4 separate regions of the Homo sapiens genome follow, and all the other regions are reported to be linked to region 2. Evidence: microRNA targets listed by miRTarBase, many of them from high-throughput screens and not tested one by one. Region 2 holds a microRNA gene; each other region holds the end of a gene's coding sequence.

Evidence for each region. The annotated mature microRNA hsa-miR-4688 reads UAGGGGCAGCAGAGGACCUGGG and lies in region 2 at 1,619-1,640, opposite strand. An mRNA with a match to its seed (bases 2 to 7 or 8) in the 3' UTR can be bound and repressed. Matches are read on the target gene's strand: a 7mer-m8 pairs with bases 2 to 8, a 7mer-A1 pairs with bases 2 to 7 and ends in A, and an 8mer does both.
Region 1: miRTarBase lists SZRD1 as a target of hsa-miR-4688. Seed matches in the 3' UTR shown: 7mer-m8 at 2,984-2,990.
Region 3: miRTarBase lists MFGE8 as a target of hsa-miR-4688. Seed matches in the 3' UTR shown: 7mer-A1 at 1,311-1,317, 7mer-m8 at 1,428-1,434 and 7mer-m8 at 1,658-1,664.
Region 4: miRTarBase lists ARID5B as a target of hsa-miR-4688. Seed matches in the 3' UTR shown: 7mer-m8 at 3,979-3,985 and 7mer-m8 at 2,645-2,651.

What each region holds. Positions count from the first base shown.
Region 1 is chr1:16,394,567-16,399,954 of GRCh38, forward strand. It overlaps SZRD1 (SUZ RNA binding domain containing 1), which reads left to right. Exons shown (of 4, transcript NM_001114600.3): 4 at 472-3,579. The coding sequence ends at 574. It overlaps SPATA21 (spermatogenesis associated 21), which reads right to left. Exons shown (of 13, transcript NM_198546.1): 12 at 4,778-4,955; 13 at 4,077-4,256. The coding sequence ends at 4,199. Among named protein-coding and RNA genes, the nearest start is that of SZRD1, 30 kb to the left of the region's middle.
Region 2 is chr11:46,372,708-46,378,095 of GRCh38, reverse strand. It overlaps MIR4688 (microRNA 4688), which reads right to left and starts at 1,694; the gene lies at 1,612-1,694. DGKZ (diacylglycerol kinase zeta) reads right to left here. Exons shown (of 31, transcript NM_001199267.2): 13 at 5,212-5,325; 14 at 4,995-5,135; 15 at 3,861-3,939; 16 at 3,642-3,697; 17 at 3,430-3,492; 18 at 3,257-3,330; 19 at 3,051-3,162; 20 at 2,465-2,664; 21 at 2,145-2,245; 22 at 1,951-2,030; 23 at 1,699-1,768; 24 at 1,532-1,572; 25 at 884-1,023.
Region 3 is chr15:88,895,132-88,900,519 of GRCh38, reverse strand. It overlaps MFGE8 (milk fat globule EGF and factor V/VIII domain containing), which reads left to right. Exons shown (of 8, transcript NM_005928.4): 7 at 709-864; 8 at 988-1,837. The coding sequence ends at 1,125. HAPLN3 (hyaluronan and proteoglycan link protein 3) reads left to right here and starts at 4,976. Exons shown (of 5, transcript NM_178232.4): 1 at 4,976-5,061. RefSeq lists enhancers at 2,862-2,911, 2,848-3,142, 5,139-5,388.
Region 4 is chr10:62,092,072-62,097,422 of GRCh38, reverse strand. ARID5B (AT-rich interaction domain 5B) reads right to left here. Exons shown (of 10, transcript NM_032199.3): 10 at 479-5,351. The coding sequence ends at 4,393. Among named protein-coding and RNA genes, the nearest start is that of LINC02621, 160 kb to the left of the region's middle.

The DNA.
Region 1 (5,388 bases), not on the chromosome of region 2:
ACAGGGGCCTCTCAACTTGGAGGTGCCCTGAGTCAGCTTCCCAAAGAAGCAGGCTTGCGGAGCCAGAGTGACGTGGGCCCAGCTATATGGACAGTTGATTTTAAGATGGGGGACATCTAGGCCAGGTGCAGTAATCCCAGTACTTTGAGAGGCCGAGGTGGACGGATCACTTGAGGTCAGGAGTTCAAGACCAGCCTGGCCGACATGGTGAAACCCCATCTCTACTAAAATTACAAAAATTAGCTGGGTGTGGTAGCATATGCCTGTAGTCCCAGCTACTCGGTAGGCTGAGGTAGGAGGATCACTTGAACTCAGGAGGTGGGGGTTGCAGTGAGCGGAGATCGTGCCACTGCACTCCAATCTAGGTGACAGAATGAGACTCCGTCTCAAAAATAAATAAAAAATAAAGAAATGATGGGGGACATCTATTATATCCTTCTTCAGGCCTTCCTCTGCTTTTCTTCCTTTCAGGCCAACCAGGATCTCCCAACCCGAAGACAGCAGGCAGCCCAATAATGTGATCAGACAGCCTTTGGGTCCTGATGGGTCTCAAGGCTTCAAACAGCGCAGATAAATGCAGGCAAGAAAAGATGCCGCCGTTGCTGCCGTCACCGCCTCCTGGGTCGTCCGCCACGGGTTGCACTGCCGTGGCAGACAGCTGGACTTGAGCAGAGGGAACGACCTGACTTACTTGCACTGTGATCCCCCTTGCTCCGCCCACTGTGACCTTGAACCCCATGCACTGTGACCTCCCCCCTTCTCCCCCTTCCCACTGTGATTGGCACATCGACAAGGGCTGTCCCAAGTCAATGGAAAGGGAAAGGGTGGGGGTTAGGGGAAGGTTGGGGGGACCCAGCAAGGACTCAGAGAGTCAGACAGTGCCACTTGGCCACTTGGGGTAAAGCCAGTGCCAGCAATAACAGTTTATCATGCTCATTAATTTGGGATTTCAAAACACAAATGAAAACTCACACCCACCCACCCCCAAGTGCATGTCTCCATCACTTAAAAAGTAAGTTCCATTTGAAAATATCCTTTCTTTTTTTTTTCTTCCTATTTTTGTTTGTTTATACAAATATCTGATTTGCAAGAAAAAGTGCATGGGAGGGGTTTTAGTGGTTTAATGAATTTTTAATTAAGAAAGGGTAGTTTGGTAGTCTACTTAAAAATGTTTCTGGGAAATTCACTAGAAACATTAACCAATAGGATTTTGGTGAGCTTAGCTTCTGTATTCCTACTGCCGCCCAGAAAAGGGGCAGGGCTCTGCAGCCGCCAGGACAGACGAGCACCCCATGCCTATACCTCCCTCCCCGAGCTAAGTCCCAGGGCATCTGGGCCTTGCCTGGAGACTGGGCTAGCTCTGTAGGCTCGGAGAGCCTGGGGAGGGTGCCAACCCCACCTCTAGTATTTTGGGAGATAGGGAAAGTGAACCGACTTCCCCTTCCCATACCCCTCAGGGTGGTTCCCTACCAGCCAGGCTTACTACTTCTAGAAGAAAGCAGAGTGCCAGGGAGTGAGATTGCATCCCTGGGCTTAGAAGTGACGGAGAGAAGACTTGTTTAGTATTTTGCCATCAGCACAAGGAAAACCAGGAGAGAGTCTGCCTCCAGGACTCTGAGCCTTCTGCCTCGTATGTTCAGAAGGTGGATAGGTCTTCCCACTCCAGCATGGCTTGAACTCTTAGGGGTCTGCAGTGCTCCATCTCCATTGGTGGCCCCAGCTCAGTAACTATACCTGGTACATTTCCTGTGTGCAATCAGTACCTTGAAGGCAGAACATTCTGAATAAAGTTGGAAAAAGAACAGCTTTGCTTTGCAAAGATTGATGACAGACTGGTTCCTCAGAGGCCTAGGCTACCCGTCACCCCTTTTTCCAGAGCGAGGGCCTGGAATGAAGGCAGTTTATCCTCTGTCCCTGGAGCCTGGGGTTTGCTTTGGCTCCTTGAGGTGGAAGAGACTAAGAGGGCAGCTGCCCAGAGCAGCTGTGTGTACCTGGCTCCTCTCAGGCTTCCTGATCCCTTCCGTTGCACTGCGCCTTATCCCTCAGCCAGCCAGACAGCCTCCCTGCTCCTGACCAGCAGATACGTTTCGGAGTGGTTGGTGTGGTTTTTGTGATGAGGGCAGCACGTGGTGGCCAAGGTGGCAAGCTGAGTCTCACAGGCTCACTCCCTCGTTGGTTCCCTGTGGGAATGGTAGGCCAGGCCCAGTAAGCCATGCCCCAACACGTCCTCTCCTCCGGAGGAAGGGCCAGCTGCCAGCTGAGTCAGCAGCTAGTCCATAGCACAGCCTTATAACTGTAAAGCCAGGCATTGCCCATGAGCAGAGCTGGAACCAGAGCTTCAGTCAGTAAGAGGGAGGATTACCTTCAGGAGAAGGCAAGGAAGAAAACTGGCTGCTATCTTTATAGTTCCACTGCCCTAACCAAGTGTCCACATTCTAAATGTGTAGTGTCCATCCCTTATGTAATAGTGGTTTCCCGCCCAAAGTGAGACTTTCCTTTTAATTGGAGAAGGGTATAGAGGTAGTCCAGGTGGGAACGCCAGAAGTGCTGATTGCCCAGCCATTGGGACCACCTGTTCTTGCCCCACTACCCTCTAGTGGGAGGCCAAAGTAAAGGCTGGCTGGTGGGTGTCTGTGGATTGAGGATGTGGCAGGGACTGGTCCTCCCACCTCCCTCTGGCCAAAGATGGGCTTTGCCCGCTGTGTGCCTGTCACCACCCACCAGCAGTCATGCCCTGGGCTTCCCAAATGGAGAGGTAGCAGGCAACGTTTTTAAAAAGAAAGAAAACAGGAAACTGTATTGTGTCGGGGGAGGCGGGAGGGAGATGAGGAAACGGTTTGGATTTTGTGTGTGGGAGGGTATTTTTTGGGGGTAGTTGTCTGTAACTTTCCTAAGTGCTTTTTTTCCTTTTCTTTTTTAAAGTAAGTTGCAGGCTTTGGCTTGGAAAACCCCAGGGGGATGGGGGGCAGAAACCTGAGGCTGCTGCCCCTTTATCTGCCTTCACGGTACTGTCCCCTTCCCCCAGCTCCTCCCTGACCCCATGGGCCAGGCCTCAGACCTTCCAGCTAACCGCTTCCCATGAGCCACTACTCTGATGTCAGCCTATAACCAAAGGAGCTGGGGGGTCCAGGCCTGGTGACCAACCTTTCTCAGCCCACTCAATCAGGGTGCTCCCCACCTGCAGGCAGGAGGCAACACCCTATCTGCTACCATCAGCCCCTTCCAGAGCCCATCTGCCCCGCCCAGCCCTGCCCTGCCCAGCCATACCCTGCTCTGCCCCATCTGGGGGTGCCCTGCTCAGGGATGGGCTGGCAGGGCTGTACCCAGCCTCCCTGGTAAGCAGAGACTCAAGAAACCTCTGGGGTCCTGTTTTCTGGTCGTGTGATCCCAGGGGTGCACATGGGCCCCTTGGGTGTCTGAACAGAAGGGCATGGGAGGGAGGGCTGCACCCCTGCAGTCTTACTCTGCTGGTGTAGCGGGCAGCTGCCCACTCCCACCCCACCCTGCACCGCGGGCTCCTGAGTCGGCAGATTAAGCATTTTATAAATTGTATTTTAAATACATGTTTTAAACTTGTCAGATCTTTGTCCTCATTTCAGTCCCTGCCCTCTACCTCTTGCTGTGGCCGCTTATTTAACCCTGGGGGATTTCCCTCTGCCCAGTCCCAGGGAAAGACTGTCTTTGGTAAAACACGAGGCCGGGTGGTATGTGGGTTGAGGGGAAAGGACCCACCCCTCTTGGGGCTCCCAGAGAATGAGAGCCCTGGGTCCTGGGGCTCTGTCGGGGGAGCATGCAGAGGCCACCTCCTGCTCTTCCACAGGGCCTGTCTTAGAGCCAGTGGAGAGAGAGAATGGCTGCTTTTGTGGGGCTCCCAGTCCAGAGGGGGATGTGCTCACCTGAGGAGAGGCCTAGCCCTGTGCTTTGAGAAGGCACAGAAGGTCAAGACTGCACGCAGGGGCACCTGTAGCAGAAATCCCAACCCCGCGCAGGGCTTTGAGGTGGAACCCTGCACTCTGAGAGCCCAGTGGTGGCTGGGTGACAACTTGAGGGCCTTTCTTGGCAAGAGGCACAGAGGCTGAAGTTATTGGTGTTTATTAGCTCACCAGGCCACAAAAGCAAATCCCAGCAGCAGCTCCTGCCTGGTGGCCCATCTGTCTACAGGCCTTGAGCAGCTGCCTAGAGTCAGGCCTCCAGAGGGTCAGTGGGTTCGAGCTGGCACAGAGCTGAGCCACTTTCTGCTGTCAGAGTTGTGTTCCCTGGGGAGAGGAGTAGGGCAGAAGGGTGGGAGACATGTGGCCCTTTCCCTATCTGCCAGTATATGAGCCATCTGTGCGTGCCCAAGTGAGGAGAGAGAGGAGGCCTCCCCTCAGAAATGGTGGAACCAGCAGTTGTGCTTAGGGGCCTGATTCCAAGTCCAGAGCTCCCTTCCCCAGCGGCCTGGAGGGGGACTGCTGCAGGAGACGTTCCCCTCTGCCCAGGTGCACAGTCTGCTAGTCCTAATATGGAACCATAGGGAACTCAGAGTACTCAGTTAGGTGCCACTGAGTCCTGGACACAGGAAAGCAGAAGCACTCTGGCTTCAGTGGAACAATCTGCTGGGTACACAGGCCCTCAACAAAGGTTTGTCTTCTTCGCCTTTTACCCTTTCTCCTCCCTGGAGCAAGCAGCCTCTCAGGTATGATCTCTTAGAAAGATGGATTCCCAGGCATTAGGCCAGGGGCCTCTTAAGGAAGAATCTGGAAGGGCCTGGGCTGGGACCCTTTCTCTGGGCACCCACCTGTTTCCTTGAGATCCTGACTGGAAGAAGGGGCTGCGGATGTCAGGATCCAGGCCAGGGGGTGTGCACTGGTCTAGTGCATAGTGGTTGCTCGGCTGCCTACGGACCATCTTCTTGTCCAGCTGTGGGCAGAGCAGGATGCAGGGCACCTGGGCATAGGGGCTCTGCAGGTTGGGAGCTGGTGAAGAAGGAGGCAGAAGGAGGAATGCTTCACAGCATGCCCAGCCTTGGGAAGCAGGCAGATTCAAGTGAAATCCTGGCGTTGCTACATAATGACCTGAGTGGTTTGGGGCAAGTCACTTAACCTCTCTAAGCTTCTGAGCTGGAGGTGATAGTGGTACCCACCTCACAAAAGTTGATGATGAGGATTAAAGGAGAAATATATGCAAAGCACTCAGCTCAGTGCTGCACACAGAATAAGAGCTGGTAACAGCTTAACAAGGAGCAGAGGACTTTGTGATGGGTGTTGGCAAAGTCTAGTAGGCATGCTCTAGAAAGACTGCAAAGCTCCTATCCTGTTACTTGGCACATAGTAGGAGTCTAATAAATGGTACCTGGGGGAAGGGAGGCAGGCTTGCCCAGTGGAAAGAGCATAGATTTTGGGGTCAGAC
Region 2 (5,388 bases):
GAGTGCCTGCTACACACCAAGCACTATTCCAGGCACTGGGGATACAGCAGGGAAACGAGACAGAGGAAGGCCTTGCCCTCATGGAGCTTACATTCTAGTTCAGGGATACAAACAAGTCAAATAAATAAGGAGTTCTGAGAGCAGGGGTGCTCTTAAGAATTCAGAACAGGTGATGTGGCACCCCTGCAGAGGGGGTCCTGGGAGTGATCTCTCCAAGGAGGAAACAGCCAAGCTGAGATTCGAAGGGGATGGGGGTGGGGGAGCTCCGGAAAGATGGGGGAAGAGTTGGAGGCAGCGATGACAGAAGTCCAGTGGTGGCAAACACCTGATGCCTCAAAGAACCAAGAGAAGAGAGTGGGGCAGGACCATGGAGGTGAACTCAGGGAGGGGGCTGGGAGCCCAGTGCAATGACGGGGGGCCTGGGGAGAATCCACGTCCAAAGGGCTGCTGAGAAAGAAGCTTCTAGGTTGGGGAGTGGCCTGGTATGCTCTGCATTTTTAGTTGACCGTGGTATGGAGATGGGGGTTCGAGGGCACGAATGGCCACAGGGATATAAGAGCTGGGGGCCAGGGCGTGGCAGCCGGGAAGGGCTGGTGGCAGTAGGGGTGGGGAGGAGTGCTCAGGTGGTGGGTCCGGGGGCTGCCAGGACTGGCTGAAGGATGAGGTCCAGAGGAGGGAGAAGTCAGGGAGGGAACCAGGGTGGACGTGAGGCCGCTTCCCCACAGAACCACAGGGCTGAAGGCCGTCAGGTGGGCTTTGGCCAGGTTCAGGTTGACACCATTTAGTTAACTGGTGGAGGGGCTAGAAGCAGGGATTCAGAAGTCATCGGCTTACAGGTGGGGCTGAAAGCCAGGGGCTGGAGGGACGGGACACCAGGACTCACCGGGGCGTGGGTGAGCAGGGTGAGGTGGGGAGAGGGGAAGTGGGGGTTGGGAGGTCAGGCCGGGCCGATGCCCCCAGCAGCTCAGGGTCCAGGATATAAATCTCATCCTGTGCGATCTCAGTCACATAGTTGAGGTGCTCCTGTGGGGGGAGGTCAGGGCGGGAGGTCAGGGCACCTGACGGTGGGGGCCGAGGGGCAGCAAGGCTGGTAGACCTGGAGAAGCCTCTGCCATGAGCACAAACACTGAAAGGAGGTGGCCAGGCAAGGGGCCCTGCCTGTCCCTCTCCCACTCCTTCCCATTCCTGACACCTCCTCCGACTGCCCAGACTTTACCAGGTGAGCTGGCGCCTGACCAGAATGCCTTTGCTTCTGTGTCTCCCTGGATGGCTCTGGGCTTCCAGGCCCTCCTACCCACCCAGCAAGCCTTTGGTAGGTACCCCACTGCCTTTCTGGCTGGCACCGCCCTATACTCTCCAGTGTGGAGGGCAGGGCCGCACGCTGTCCATGCACACAGGCAATAGTAAAAGCTCTCAGAGGCATGAGGACAGAGGTGAGCCCATCGGGGGAGCTAACAGGGAAGGCGTCCCAGGAGAGGCGACCCTGGGGCCCGGAAGCAGCTGTGGCTGGAGCAGGCCTGCAATCGCTCACCTGGGCTCGGTCGATCCTGTAGAAGCGGCTGGCAGTGGTGGCTGTGGGAGAGAGGGCAGCTGAGGATCAGGGAGTGCCATGTCCAGGCCCAGGTCCTCTGCTGCCCCTACCTGGGATCCCCTAGGGAGGGAACACGAAACAGCTTGGCACCCTGGGAGTAGACTCACCGTCCAGGAAGCACCACTTGGGGGACAGTTTCTGGCATGTCGGGGACTTGGCTCCAGCACCATCGGGCTCCTGTTGAGAGAAGCAAAGGCCAGGCTGGGATAGAGTGGGGGCCAGGGAGGGAAGGGAACTTGGAGTAGGGGGAACCAGCACAGAGGAGGCTCCGCAGGGCGAGCTGGCTGCGGGAGGAAGAGGCCTGGCCTCACTTCCCACCACCCTCTCGGTGGGCACCTGGGGAAGCCCCCACCCCTTACCTGCTGGAGTCTCTCAATGTGGGCACGGCAGAGCTCTAGGTCACTGTCTCCTGGGACCACCACAGTGCCCAGCGGCACAGCTGGAGAACAGAGCACCTGTCAGCAGCTGGCTGCACCCCACAGCCCTGCCCAAGGGGGCCCCGGCTGCTTCAGCCCCTCCTGGCCACCCTGCCAGGCCGCCCCACCGCACTCACAGGCCTCCTTGAGCTGCTCCTTGTCGTAGTGCAGGGCCTCATAGTCGTGCATGCTGACGCGACTCACCTGGATGCGCAACTGCTCTGGCACCGGCTGCTGGCTGTCGGGCAGGGCCGGCAAGCGGGGGCTCAGCAAGGGCCCTGCCTTGGTGCCACCCTCGGCCTGGCACCAAACCACTTGCCGAGAGAAGGTCCCGCTCCACTCCCAACACCCCTGGGGCAGAGGGACAGTCAGCCCCTTTTACAGATGGGGAAATCAAGGCCCAGAGAGGGCAGGGTCTGGCCTTGGCACCCAGGGCACGTGGCAGGGTGGGACGTACTCGCTGTGCAGGGGGGCGGCGCTCCGCCGCTTGGCCTTCTGCACCATGGTGGCCTGGTTGCGCAGGGCGATGCGGATGCGTGAGGCTGCAAGCTTGCAGGGCTCGCCATCCACCTGCACCGGGATGGCCTTGGATGTGGTGAGCACCACCTCGCGACACTGCGTCAGCCGCTCGCCGTGTCCGCCCACCTGCAGCGCGGCCTGTGGGCACAGGAAGCTTGGGTCAGATGGCACCAGGGCTGGGGGCAGGGGGGTCCCAGACTCTGCTCCTTCCGAAGCAGAAACTCTAGCCAGAGAACAAAGGTGAGAGTGACCCCTGGCCAGAGGGCAGAGGGGAGGCTGAGACCCCAGGTAGGAAAGGGAAGGGACAGAGGCAATGAGGGTGACGCTCCAGTCAGAGTGGGGAGTGAAGGTATCCCGAGGCATAGTGAGGAGAGGGGGTAGGTGCCGCTCTCAAGCCAGAGGAATGAGACAAAGAAGGGAGGTGAGGGTGAACTAGGCCGCCGTGGCCCATGGAGGTGAGTATGGGTGACCCCTTCCACCTTTGGGCTGTGCTCCCAGGCACCATGGGCCCAGGGCCCACTCACCAACGACGTCATGGTGAAGCCAATGACCTCGAGGTAGCCGTCGTCATGCCGCTGGGGCTCAAAGTCGTGGTGCTCCCCAGGGTGGCCCCAGGGCATGGTGCCCGCACAGTACCTGCAAAGGCGGGCGATGACATGGGCCTCAAAACACAGTCTCTGCAGGACAAGGACAGCAGGGCTCCCCCCAGCTCCGGTAGCCCCCTCCTCACCTGGGGATGTTCAGGAAAACAACACACTGGGGTTTCAGGTCCTGGATCTTGGGAGTCAAGTCCATTCCATCACACTGGAGGCGGGCGGGGAGGGTGTTGAGGTGCATGTGCCAGGTGGCCTCCGCCTCCCTCCCTTCCGGCCCACCCACCCACGGCAGCCTGGCCCCGCTCACCACCACTCGGATGTGCTTGGCCAGGTCCTTGGAGCTGCCCATCAGGAAGTCAGAGAAAGCTGTCTGTGGGAGACAGAGGGCGTCACCATCTGCTGACAGAGATCTTTCCTCACCAGCACCCGGCAGGGCTCCTGGGGCCTGGTGGACACAGGTGGGCACGGGCACGGGTGGTAGAAGAGGTGGGCACAGGCGGGGGTGCAGACCCCACTCACCCCGGCGTAGAACATCTTATTCCGAAAGCGGCTGTTGAATTTCTCTGGGTTGGCCTCTGGGTGGAGACAAGCAGTGGGGGCCAGTGAGTCACCCCAGCCTGCCCAGGTGGGGTTGGGGGAGGGCTGGGATGGATGCCTTCACTGGCGGGAGCAGGGTCTGACCCTCCCGGGGACACTCCTGTGCCCACCCTGCCCTGGCCTCAGTGGGAGGCTGCCAACCTCGAGACTCGTGGAACTCCAGGGTGACGTGGGCGTCAAAGCCCAGGCTGAAGTAGTTGTTGAAGACATCCAGGGGCAACTGGAAAAAGGTCAAGGGACCAAAATGAGGGCTGGGCCTCACAAATGTCCCCGCTCCAGGGGCCTCGTGTGGCCGAGCCAGCTCAGCCCATCTGTTCACAGGCTTTTCCTGGTCAGCAGCGTCCGCTAGGGCTCAGCCCAGCTCACCCGCTGTCAGGCACAGCCCTGCTCTGCCTGGTGGCTCCTGGGGGATTTCCCTGCGTGCCTGCAGCATCTCTTCCCTGTCAGCTCCCCTAACACTTCTTCCTGACATGCCATGTGGAGCACAACAGCGAGGCTTGGTTTTGCTCACTGCTTAGAGAAGTGCCTGGCAGGTAGCAGGCGCTCAGTGCATGTCTATGGAATAAAGCAGCATCTTCTGACCAGGCGTGGTGGCTCATGCCTGTAATCCCAGTGCTTTGGGAGGCCGAGGCAGATGGATCACCTGAGGTCAGGAGTTCAAAACCAGGCTGACCAACATGGTGAGACCCCATCTCTACTAAAAATACAAAAATTAGCCGGGTGTGGTGGCGGGTGCCTGTAGTCCCAGCTACTCAGGAGGCTGACGGAGGAGAATAGCTTGAGCCCGGGAGGCAGAGGTTGCAGTGAGCCAAGACTGTGCCACTGTACTCCAGCCTGGGTGACAGTGAGACTCTGTCACAAAAAACAAAAAACAAAAACAAAAAAAAAAACAAGAAAAAAAAAAGAAAACAGAAAAACAAAAATTAGCCAGGTGTGGTGGCACCTGCCTATAATCCCAGCTACTCAGGAGGCTGAGGCAGGAGAATCGCTTGAACCTGGGAGGCGGAGGTTGCAGTGAGCTGGGATTGCGCCACTGCACTCCAGCCTGGGTAACAGAGCGAGACTCAGTCTCAAAAAAAAAAAAAAAAAAACAAAAAAAAAACACAGAAAAAACAGCATCTTGTGAGGCAAGTACTATTATTCCCATCGTACAAGGAAGAAGTGGAAGTTGGAGAAATGAAGAGACACGCCCGAGGTCCCAGAACCAGCAAGTGGAAAAGTGGGATCCAGTCCCCAGTCACCTGCCCTGCCCCCCACCAACCCTGGCCAACTTACCCGGTCGGTGGCGCCTTCATCTCGGTCCTCAGGCCCTGCCTCGGGGTTGGGCTCAGCGTGGAGGTCCCAGCGGTCCAGCTGTACCACGTTCCCCTCCTCCACGTGGGAGAGGATCTTGGACACAGGCTCATCTGTGTAGCCCTGGGGGAGCAGGCAGGGACTGAGCCCTCTGTGGCTGGAGAGGCCCCAGCTGCACCCCCCTCCTATGGGTGCTTACCCCACCCCAGTTGAGGGTTCGGGCCAAGTCGTTGCCAGTACCCAGGGGCAGGATGGCAACAGGGGGTGGCGGCTTCAGGCGTAGCTGGTCCAGGGTGGAGAGGATCCAGCCCACCTGGGGGAGGAAGAACAGAGGCAAATCAGGCCCACAGGGACCCCGGCTTCAGGCCCAGCCCTG
Region 3 (5,388 bases), not on the chromosome of region 2:
GAGGAGCTGCCTGCCTGTGGACACCCTCAGGACCAGTGTCAGACTGTGGGCGGCGCCGCAGGGAGCCTCTAGAGCAGTTCATGCCCCTCCAGGCTGTGGCCTCTCCTGTCCTTCTTCCCATCACAGTGCAGTGCAGGTCTCAGGCAGGGGTGGTTGGCGTGGAGTTGGCCAGGGCCCAGACCCTATGAGCTTTATAGCAGTGAGGTACCGAACACCATGTGTGGCAAAGTAGGTGGTATTATTTATGCCCCCTCACCGCTTTTTTTTTTTTTTTTTCTGAGACAGAGCCTTGCTCTGTCACCCAGGCTGGAGTGCAGTGGCGCCATCTCGGCTCACCGCAACCTCCGCCTCCCAGGTTCAAGCGGTTCTTCTGACTCAGCCTCCCTAGTAGCTGGGATTACAGGCAGCCACCATCATGCCCAGCTAATTTTTTGTATTTTTAGTAGAGACGGGGTTTCACCATGTTGGTCAGGCTGGTCTCGAACTCCTGACCTCAGGTGATCCACCTGCCTCAAGTCTCTCCCAAAGTGTTGGGATTATAGGCATGAGACACCATGTCCGGCCTTATGCCCATTTTATAGCCAAAGAAACTGAGGCTCACCCAAGTAGTTTTTTTCAAAACTAGAATTCATGCCTCAGTGTGTCTGCCTCTTTTCACCTTACTGGAGATGGTCCAAGCAGAGAAAATGTGGTTGGTTTCTTCTGTAGGTGGACCTGGGCTCCTCGAAGGAGGTGACAGGCATCATCACCCAGGGGGCCCGTAACTTTGGCTCTGTCCAGTTTGTGGCATCCTACAAGGTTGCCTACAGTAATGACAGTGCGAACTGGACTGAGTACCAGGACCCCAGGACTGGCAGCAGTAAGGTGGGTGTCTGTCCAGCTGCCCACCCTTTGCCATTCCTTCATTACTTCCCTGGGAGTCTGGCCTGGGGCTCTGAGGGGAGGGGGGCTGGCTCGGGGTCCTCCTGACACCCGCTCTGCCTCTAGATCTTCCCTGGCAACTGGGACAACCACTCCCACAAGAAGAACTTGTTTGAGACGCCCATCCTGGCTCGCTATGTGCGCATCCTGCCTGTAGCCTGGCACAACCGCATCGCCCTGCGCCTGGAGCTGCTGGGCTGTTAGTGGCCACCTGCCACCCCCAGGTCTTCCTGCTTTCCATGGGCCCGCTGCCTCTTGGCTTCTCAGCCCCTTTAAATCACCATAGGGCTGGGGACTGGGGAAGGGGAGGGTGTTCAGAGGCAGCACCACCACACAGTCACCCCTCCCTCCCTCTTTCCCACCCTCCACCTCTCACGGGCCCTGCCCCAGCCCCTAAGCCCCGTCCCCTAACCCCCAGTCCTCACTGTCCTGTTTTCTTAGGCACTGAGGGATCTGAGTAGGTCTGGGATGGACAGGAAAGGGCAAAGTAGGGCGTGTGGTTTCCCTGCCCCTGTCCGGACCGCCGATCCCAGGTGCGTGTGTCTCTGTCTCTCCTAGCCCCTCTCTCACACATCACATTCCCATGGTGGCCTCAAGAAAGGCCCGGAAGCGCCAGGCTGGAGATAACAGCCTCTTGCCCGTCGGCCCTGCGTCGGCCCTGGGGTACCATGTGGCCACAACTGCTGTGGCCCCCTGTCCCCAAGACACTTCCCCTTGTCTCCCTGGTTGCCTCTCTTGCCCCTTGTCCTGAAGCCCAGCGACACAGAAGGGGGTGGGGCGGGTCTATGGGGAGAAAGGGAGCGAGGTCAGAGGAGGGCATGGGTTGGCAGGGTGGGCGTTTGGGGCCCTCTATGCTGGCTTTTCACCCCAGAGGACACAGGCAGCTTCCAAAATATATTTATCTTCTTCACGGGAACTCTTGGTGTGGTTCGTTATTGTTTCATGGGAATGGGATTTAAATTGCGCTGGTTTCCCCATCCCCCACCTGTGGTCCTCCCTGAGCCCCAGCTTGCTTGCTTGCTTTTTTTTTTTTTTTTTTGAGATGGAGTCTTGCTCTGTCGCCAGGCTGGAGTGCAGTGGTGTGATCTCGGCTCATTGCAATCTCTGCCTCCTGGGTTCAAGCATTTCTCCTACCTCAGCCTCCCAAGTAGCTGGGACTATAGGTGCACACCACCATGCCCAGCTAAGTTTTATATTTTTAGTAGAGACAGGGTTTCACCGTGTTGGCCAGGATTGTCTCAATCTCTTGACCTTGTGATCCACCTGCCTCGGCCTCCCAAAGTGCTGGGATTACAGGCGTGAGCCACCGTGCCCAGCCCCATCTTTCTTTATGTCACCTGCCTGACTACACATAGCTTCATAGCAGGAGGCTGGAGACTTTGGTCCAGGGCGGCCTGAAGGAAGTCAGGACTTCCAGGTCCTCAAAACCTGACTTCCCCTCTTCCCTCTGCTTTCTACCTCCATGCCGTCTGGCCCTGAGCCCTACAACTGCTGCCTGGTCAGGGGCCCAGCGAGTGCTGGCAGACACTGTCTCCTGAATGCTTTTGCTCCCTTCCTGCCAGGAAGACTGGCTGGGGCAGCTGGTTTTCCCCTTCAGCAGTTTCCATTCTCTCTGCAACTGGAGTGGTGGGCTGGAGAAACTATAAGAAACTCAGTGAACCTGGATGCCTTCCGAACTGCGGGAGTTCCTGGGGTGGGTGCAGCGTGGGACTGGAGGAGGGGGCCGGGGCTCTGCCAAGTGGGCATGAGGCCTCCTGCCTGAACACACTGGTTCCTGGTAGGCCACTGGCGTGTGTGCTCCAGGGATACCCTCTCTGCCCTCCCCTGTGTGGGGGTCATCAAGAAGTGGGGGTGGGCCTTGCGGGCCAGTGTCTTGGTGATCTGGAAGGGTGACTTGCAGGCAGAGGCTTGGCTAGCTTGGGAAGGGGTGTAGGAAAAACCACCCTCTTTGTCAAGGTGAATTTTTCCAAACTTTGGGAGCCGGCTGTGTTCTGCAGGCAGGGGGTGCATCTGAGCAGCAGGAGGTGGGGCCGCCTCTGAGCAGCAGGAGGTGGGGCCGCCTCTGAGCAGCAGGAGGTGGGGCCACAGGGCTGCCAAAGGGAGGGCGTGGCTTTGCTGGAACCACATCAGGGAAATGTGTCTGGAAGTGGTTCCTTTCTGAGACCTGCGGTTGCTGGGCTCCTGGGCCTAGCAGGGTCTGAATAAAAGGCCCAGGCCGTGGTCTTCGTAGGAACTGAGGATGGGGGACTCCCTTCCCCTGGGTGTCCCTTGGCCTACTGCCTCCCGTTTCAGAGCTCTCTTCTGCGGAGCGGTGTGGATTGGGTTTAGAGCCAAGCCTTTCTGCGTGCTTCCAAGCCTCAGGTCTCCCTCCCGGGGGAGTTTCCTGCCCTGAACCCCTGTTCCAGCATACCCTGGGGATAAGCAGACAGTGGGAGAAGCATCTCTGCTCTGGGATGGGTTGGCCACAGCCTTCTAAAAGTCCCCCTCCTGGGACCCTGGAGTGGAGTCCCCTCACTCCTGACCCCCTCCTTCCTTCCTTGGCTTCTCTCCCTCAGCAGTGTCTTCCATTTGCCCAGCTTTTACCATCACCCCTACACATTGACTTTTTTCTGCCCCACTGCAAGGCAGAGGGTGAGCGTTCAGATTCCACCTGCTGGCTACCCCTACCCCTGGCTGGCATGTTCAACTCGACTTAACTGTAGCAAAATGTGCTCTCCCTACTGTCCATCCTCTCCCCTGTCGGGAACCTGCAGAGGGACCTACCTTGGCTCCCCTTTGCCCATCAAGCCTGGCGTTCCTTTTAGGTGTAGTTTACCTGTTGATCACAGTTCTTTGTGCTCCAATGTGCCCCTGGCTGTGTGTAACACACACACATGCACACACACACACACACTCATGGGCCAACTTGAGCTGTGTTTAGGAAGAGGCTCTGAGCTCTGTGACCCTGTGACCCTTCGACCCTTCCCCCAGCCAAAGCTGAAGGACCTCCTTAGTCTTTTCTGCTGAGGAAACATCGGGCTGTCCAGGCCAGGGCCCCCATTGGTCTGGACAGGAAAGAAAACACCCTGTCCAAACAGAGGCATCCTGAGCGGCTGCCTGGATGGCTGTGCTGATTAGCAGGATTCCGAAGGGAGGCCCACCCCTGTTGGAGGACCACTCAGAAGCCTGATTGCCCCTGCAGGCTGCAGAGGTATCCCACCCTGTGTCTCCCCTCCCAGCCAGGGCCACTCATTCAAGCCCCATGTGCTGGGGATAGCACCTGCTATGTGCCTGACAGTGAGTTGGGAATCTGGCCAGTGTTTCATGATGGCCAAACTCAGGGGCATGAGGACATCAGCAACCCCTTGCTTTTTTTTTTTTTTTTTTTTTGAGACGGAGTTTTGCTCTTGTTGCCCAGGCTGGAGCACAATGGCATGATCTCAGCTCACTGCAACCTCCGCCTCCTGGGTTCAAGCAATTCTCCTGCCTCAGCCTCCCAAGTAGCTGGGATTACAGGCATGCTCCACCACGCCCAGCTAATTTTGTATTTTTAGTAGGGACAGGGTTTCACCATGTTGCCCAGGCTGGTCTTGAACTCCTGACCTCAGGTGATCCACCGGCCTCCACCTCCCAAAGTGCTGGGGTTACAAGCATGAGCCACTCACTGCACCTGGCCTCACCCCCTTGCTTTCTATTTGGAAAAGAAAGTAATACAGAAGTCTCACCCCTTCCACAATCAAAGGTGGGGAGCAGCCTTAGCCCCTAGCAGAATGCTGGACAGGGGCTTCCCCTGCTTACTCCCACTGTTTTTGGTATACCAGGCTTTCTAAGGGGATCCCCCCTCCCCAAACTCTCCTATTCCACCCCTACTCTCCTTTCCCAAGACGTGAGGGCCTCAACTCTTGCACACCCTCTTTGCGGTGGTTCCCAGCGAGTCTGGAGACCGCTCAAGCCTGCAGCAGCTCCTCCCTTCGAGCCCAGCCCTTGGGAGGGAAAGGTGCGCGTGTTCCTTTAAGGGGCTGGTCTGGCGGGAGCGCGGGGGTTTTTCTGCTGCCGCTTCCTTTCTGCCCTTTTAATTTCCCCGAAATCAGACTGCTGCCTTGGACCGGGACAGCTCGCGGCCCCCGAGAGCTCTAGCCGTCGAGGAGCTGCCTGGGGACGGTACGTGGCTTAGGGGTCGCTGGGCTTCTGGGGCTGTGTGCGGGCCGGGTTCCTCCCTTACCGCTTTGGGTGCCCTGCGGGTCCCCACACCTCCCGGGCAGGGTCCGGGGAAGGGGCAGGAGGCGTGGGCCGGGCACTGCGGAGGCCCGGGCTGAGATGGGCTGTGATCGCGGGCGAGGGGCGCCCGGGGCACAAGTGGGGAGGGAGCGGCGCGGGGATGCGGGCGCCGGACCCTCGTGCCCACCGTGAGGGAGCAGAGCCCGAGCGGACCCCGTGGCCTCCGAGACCACCGTCCGCCTCCAGCCCCCTTCCTGCCAGGGTCCGCTT
Region 4 (5,351 bases), not on the chromosome of region 2:
AGAATCGCTTGAACCTGGGAGGCGGAGGTTGCAGTGAGTTGAGGTCGCACCACTGCACTCAGCCTGGGCGACCGAGTGAGACTCTGTCTCAAAATAAATAAACAAACAAACAAACAAATAAATAAATAAATAACTTTTCTGATTATCCTACCAGCGGAGGAGGATGGTATACAAAGGAAGTACATAGATGAGAGCCCTGGCTTCAAATCCTGACTCTGCCATCTGTTGGGTGATCTTGGACCAGTTGATTTACCTCTCTAAGCTTTAGTTTTCTCATAAGTAAAATAGGTATAACCATATTTACATAAGGTTGTGAAGATAAGAGGTATTTGCCAAATGGGCACCCACTAGGTCCTTAGTGAATTACAGACATTGCCATCATTACTGTTATCATTCAATTTGGACAGATGGGGTGGAAAGTCTTCTGGGGAGGCCACAGGCTCCTCAGGAAGAGTGACAGATTACTCACACCCAAAAGGAAACAGATAGTAACATTTTTTATTAAATATTACAGTGGATCAAAAAGTACAAAATATCTCTTGCCTGCTATGTGATTGGGAAACTATTGGCACGTAATACAGTATCAAAAGCAGTAATAAGTACAATTTGGAAAACATACAAAATTGAGTGTTTATAGTTGGCTCAGCATTCTTCTGGTAGTGTTTAAACTAATGCAAAGGTTACTCAATAACCTCTCCATTGGGAAACTATATAATATCACTGGGCCATGTTGCTATATACAAATAATCACCTTACAGAGCATAGAGGTTACATAGCTGGAATCACCAAAAGTATACAATATTTACAACACAGGAAAGTTTAAAAAAGTATAAACAGCCAAGAGATTATGCTGCTATTCTTCAGACATATTTCAACCATGAGGAGACAGGCAGAATATCAAATACACTAACAGCCAACACTGGACTTTAAGTGCTCAAGATAATCATTGCAATGGTATGGGTCTCACCAGGGCAAACTCATTCCCATTTCTCTTTAAAATTGGGACAAGAGTAAAACTAGACCAGATGCGACTTGGCTGACCACCACCAAATGTGACTTTGTGGGACGATAAGTGAAGAGAAATAAATGGTTCTCTTTGAAGGCACACTACATAAAATATTTTTGTGGGACCACCTCGAAATTTCCATCAGACACACCAACACAGTGAAATACAGTACTTGAGAATTCATGCACCAGGTCAGAAAGTTGTAAAGTTAACATCGAGTTTTAACAAACCCTTCTGTATATGCCCTGATAAACAAGTGAACTTAAGAGCTTCTAGCTAGTAAATAAATAAGTCAGTCCTGTGGCAAATATTACAAGTTTGAATCACTTACTAGAAGAATACTTAATTCCGAAACTCGGTTGGGCTGTTTTTATTTTTTTATCATGTGGAGTTGCCAAACATTAAACCAGAAGTTGCATGGAAGTTTTTTAAAAATATTATTTAGAATCTCCAAATCTCCAATAAATCACAGACTTAGTGCATTTTGAATTGCAACATTTCTTGGAAGCCACACTCAGTAAATAGATTTATGACTCCACTGCCAATTCGATTCCACAGTTTCCTTTACAGAACTACCAATAACAATGGTTTGATTGCACAAAGAAAGGCTTGTGCAATTCCATTCAATAATAAGGCCCCTTGAACTCAAACAATGCAAACAAAGCCTTATTTAAGACATTTTAAAACGTCGTTCTCAGCCAATGAAGAATTCAATGGTCTTTTTGAAAGATTTCCAAGATCTCTGTTCAGAGTTTTAAAACAAATAACACACTGCTTCTGTTGGGAATGCGTACCCCCATTTCTCTTTATTTGTCCTGATGTTTTGCCGAGGGTATGAGCTTCCTCAGACAGAAACAGTGAGTCTCCTCTCAGAAGAGATGAGAAAAACAAAAGCTGGACTATGTTAACATTGTTTGAAAATGGTGTGATCGAATTCCAACATGATGAAACCAGACTGAAATCATTGCAGTGGAAAAAACAAATGCCCCATATTCCAAATAGGTGAGCTCCACCGGGGACAGATGCCCCCCCTCCTTTTTTTTTTGAGACACGAACTCATAGAAACCACATATGACCTAGCCCATGTCTGCTGCAGAACCACCGAAGTTTCCTTTTTCTTCCATGTCCTCCGATTCTGTGACCATTCAATCTAGTGCAACTTTCTTATATGTGTCCTGGCTAGCATCTTGCCAGCTGGAATTGAGATTTTTCCCCCCTCTAGCTTGTGCAATAGCAGGATAATCTGCACTCACACATTTATAATCTAAATTCTACTAGTCTATCTATGGTTCTATTAAATATATATATATATATTATTCCACAGGAAGGTAAATAATTAATTGAAGCAAATGGAACTCTTAACACTGGATCTCTACATTCTTTTGTTTCCACCTTTGGATATTAAGTATGTTACATTGAATATTTGGCTTCATATCATGGAGACATTTCAATACAAATGCACGGCATGCATGGCTTTGTTTAAGAGCCGCAGTTTCATTGTTATCAGTTTTGATTATTTTGCAGTCGAGTTACCTATTTAGAAGTTGAAAATTGTCACCAATTTTCCCAGAATTAAGTATCTCAGAGGTAAAAGACTTAGTTAACTATGGTTCTAAAGTCTACTGGTAGTGTTGCGGGAGGGGCACAGTGGGTTGGGGAGTTCATCCAAGCGGTCTTCAGCAGGGATGGGACTTGGGGAGAAAATCCACTCTCTGTATCCATTGACTTTTAATTAATACAGTTAGAAAATGTGTCCACCTTAATGTTATATCTCGGTAGCAAATGGAATACAGTGGCAAGAATGACAACGGACATTCTCCACATCTTTTCACTGCCTGAGCAGCTTGACCATTTACTTCCCACAATAAAAGAAACCAGAAAGTGGACTGTATTGCCAGGTGGTTAAAAACATGACCCAAACCACCTTACATGTTTCTGTGTGTGTACACACAAAACTCACACCCCATAAAACCAAATAGGATGACTTTTCTTTTGAAAAGGCTAATCCAGTATGTCAGTTATCCCCAAAGATGTGGCCTGGGAGATTCTTCTTGGGAATGACAAGAAACCAACTGGATGAAAACAACATGACTACTTATCACTCAAAAGACCGAGGCTAGAGAAGCTATCAGGACTGCAGCTGCTCCTCTTCTGGCCAGTTGAGCTCCATCCTCTTCCCAACCCCCTTTCCCAGACCATTTAAAGGAATCAGTGCCAACGCCAATGTAAATCATTTTGGCTCCTGTTCTAATTTCTGAAATTCCTAAAATATCTGTGCAGCCCACAAATATGTCCTCTAGACTCTGTTGTTATTCGGCAGCTTGCTGCCAGTGAGGTTTTTGTTTTTATGATTCTCTGGTATGTAGGACAGTTTCACAGCCTAGATAAGGTAAGTACAATGCTCAATATTTTCACAGAACCCAATACTTCAAAGCAAAGCATTTGGCTGGGTAAGCAGTGTATAAGCTCTTTCAACTATGCCATTTATGAGGAACAAAATCCTTAAGTTGCGGATCTACAAAGGAACGTTCTTTGCACTATTGTGTGCTTGACTGTTTCTTTTTCATTTGTTCCACTAGAATCAGTTGCTTCAATTTGTAAACAATAACTTTACCACCCAAAGCTGCTCAAAATAAGATGTGGAAAAATTACAAACACACAACAACTAGGACAGTCAGTCAGCCTCAAAAACAAAACAAAAACAAAAAGACCTGCAAACAAAAGCAATACCATTTAATAAAAAAAAAAAAAAAAAAAAAAAAAAAGACGAGAAGGAACTGGGAGAAAATGGAACTACCTGTATATAAATTAGGTGAGCAAACAGTGATACAGGTAGTTTTAAGAAGCAAATATATACAGTCAATTTAACAGTGTTTACTTCTCTGGATTGTTTAATAGTGTCAAAATGAAAGATCTATTGAAGTTTCACTATACATTGCATTGATTGAACCTTGGAGAGTTTTATGAAAAAGAGGGGCATCCCTTGCCATCTGTTTGCCAGTCTTCCTTGCCCCTTCCTTTGAAATGCCTGCCTCTTTTTTGCCCAGATTGTTTCCTGACCATCCGAACTCAGATGGGGTCCTCTAAGTTCTTCCTGGATATTCACAAATCCCTTCACAAGGCCCACGTGCGAAGTGAATGATCTGGAGGTGCCTGGGCATCTGTGTTGGAAGGGAGTCAAGACTCACCAGCCAGTCAGTTTGTGGGCTAGAGTTGTCCCACAAAAATCAGGCATGTTCACCTCCCCTCTGGGCCCCTACAGCTGGGACTGATCATAGCCTCAGATTAGAAGAAATACTGACTTCTAACTCTATAAGCCAGCACTCCTGGGTAAGGAGTGAAGCTCTGTTGGCCATGCCGCTTTGGACTGCTGGGCAGAGCTGAGCCTACAGTTTTGTACTGGGGTGCACGGATGACAGCTGGGAAGATGGAAAGGCAGCTTGAGGATTTATAGCAGCTAAAGGGTAAATGCTGTTATGCAAAAGGTCCCCATATGAACTTCCTACAGGTGTAGCCGCAGCCAAGTGTCTGTACAGCTGCTGAGAATTTGTCGGTGATGTAAAAATTCCTCTTTGCATCACAAGCGAGTGGAAAGCCAGGGGCTGCATGAGTGGAGAAAGCACAGTCTGGTTTTTCAAGTACTGCAGAGAATGAGAATACCCAGCCGGGAGCCTGGAGTTGAGGCCCGAGTTACACAGGCTCCCGGAATACAGACCTGGGAAGATAGGGGAGGAGAGGGGAAGCTTGTGGCCTTCTGATCCGCCCCCGGAATGCCCACCGTGCGCTGCTTTGCTGCCTTCACTCTCCTGCTCAGAGGCCTTCTCCTTCCCAGAGACCTCCTTGGATGGGTCTAAGGGAGACACTGCCCGGGCCTTTTTCCCTGCAATCACAAGGTCCAAATCCTCCAGGCTGCGCTTGATCGGCCGCGCCGCCCCAATGTTCTGCGGGCTCATTTTCCGGTGCAGGATTGGGTGGACCATGCCTTCCATCTTCCTGAAATTCTCCAGTCTCACATGGTGAGGTTTTCCTGATCTTGAAAGCGATTCAGGGTATTTTTTAGGGCCTGACATGGTCATGGGTGATACCCGACAGGCTTTGGGGTGACAGTCTCGACTCTGGCTGCCTAAGACCTGGAACTGGGAGATGCCTTTGCTCTCCTGGGGCCCTGTGGTGGAATGAGCCAGGCCCAGGACCTTGCCGGTAGGTTTGTGCGGGTTCTTGGGAAGGCTCAGATCTGTAGGCTGATCATCCGTAGGGGCTTCTGCTGCCGCCGACTTTTTGTCTTGCAGGTGCAGGGACGTGAGATAATTTACATGGAGCTTTTCTTGGTGTCTGTGGGAAGGAA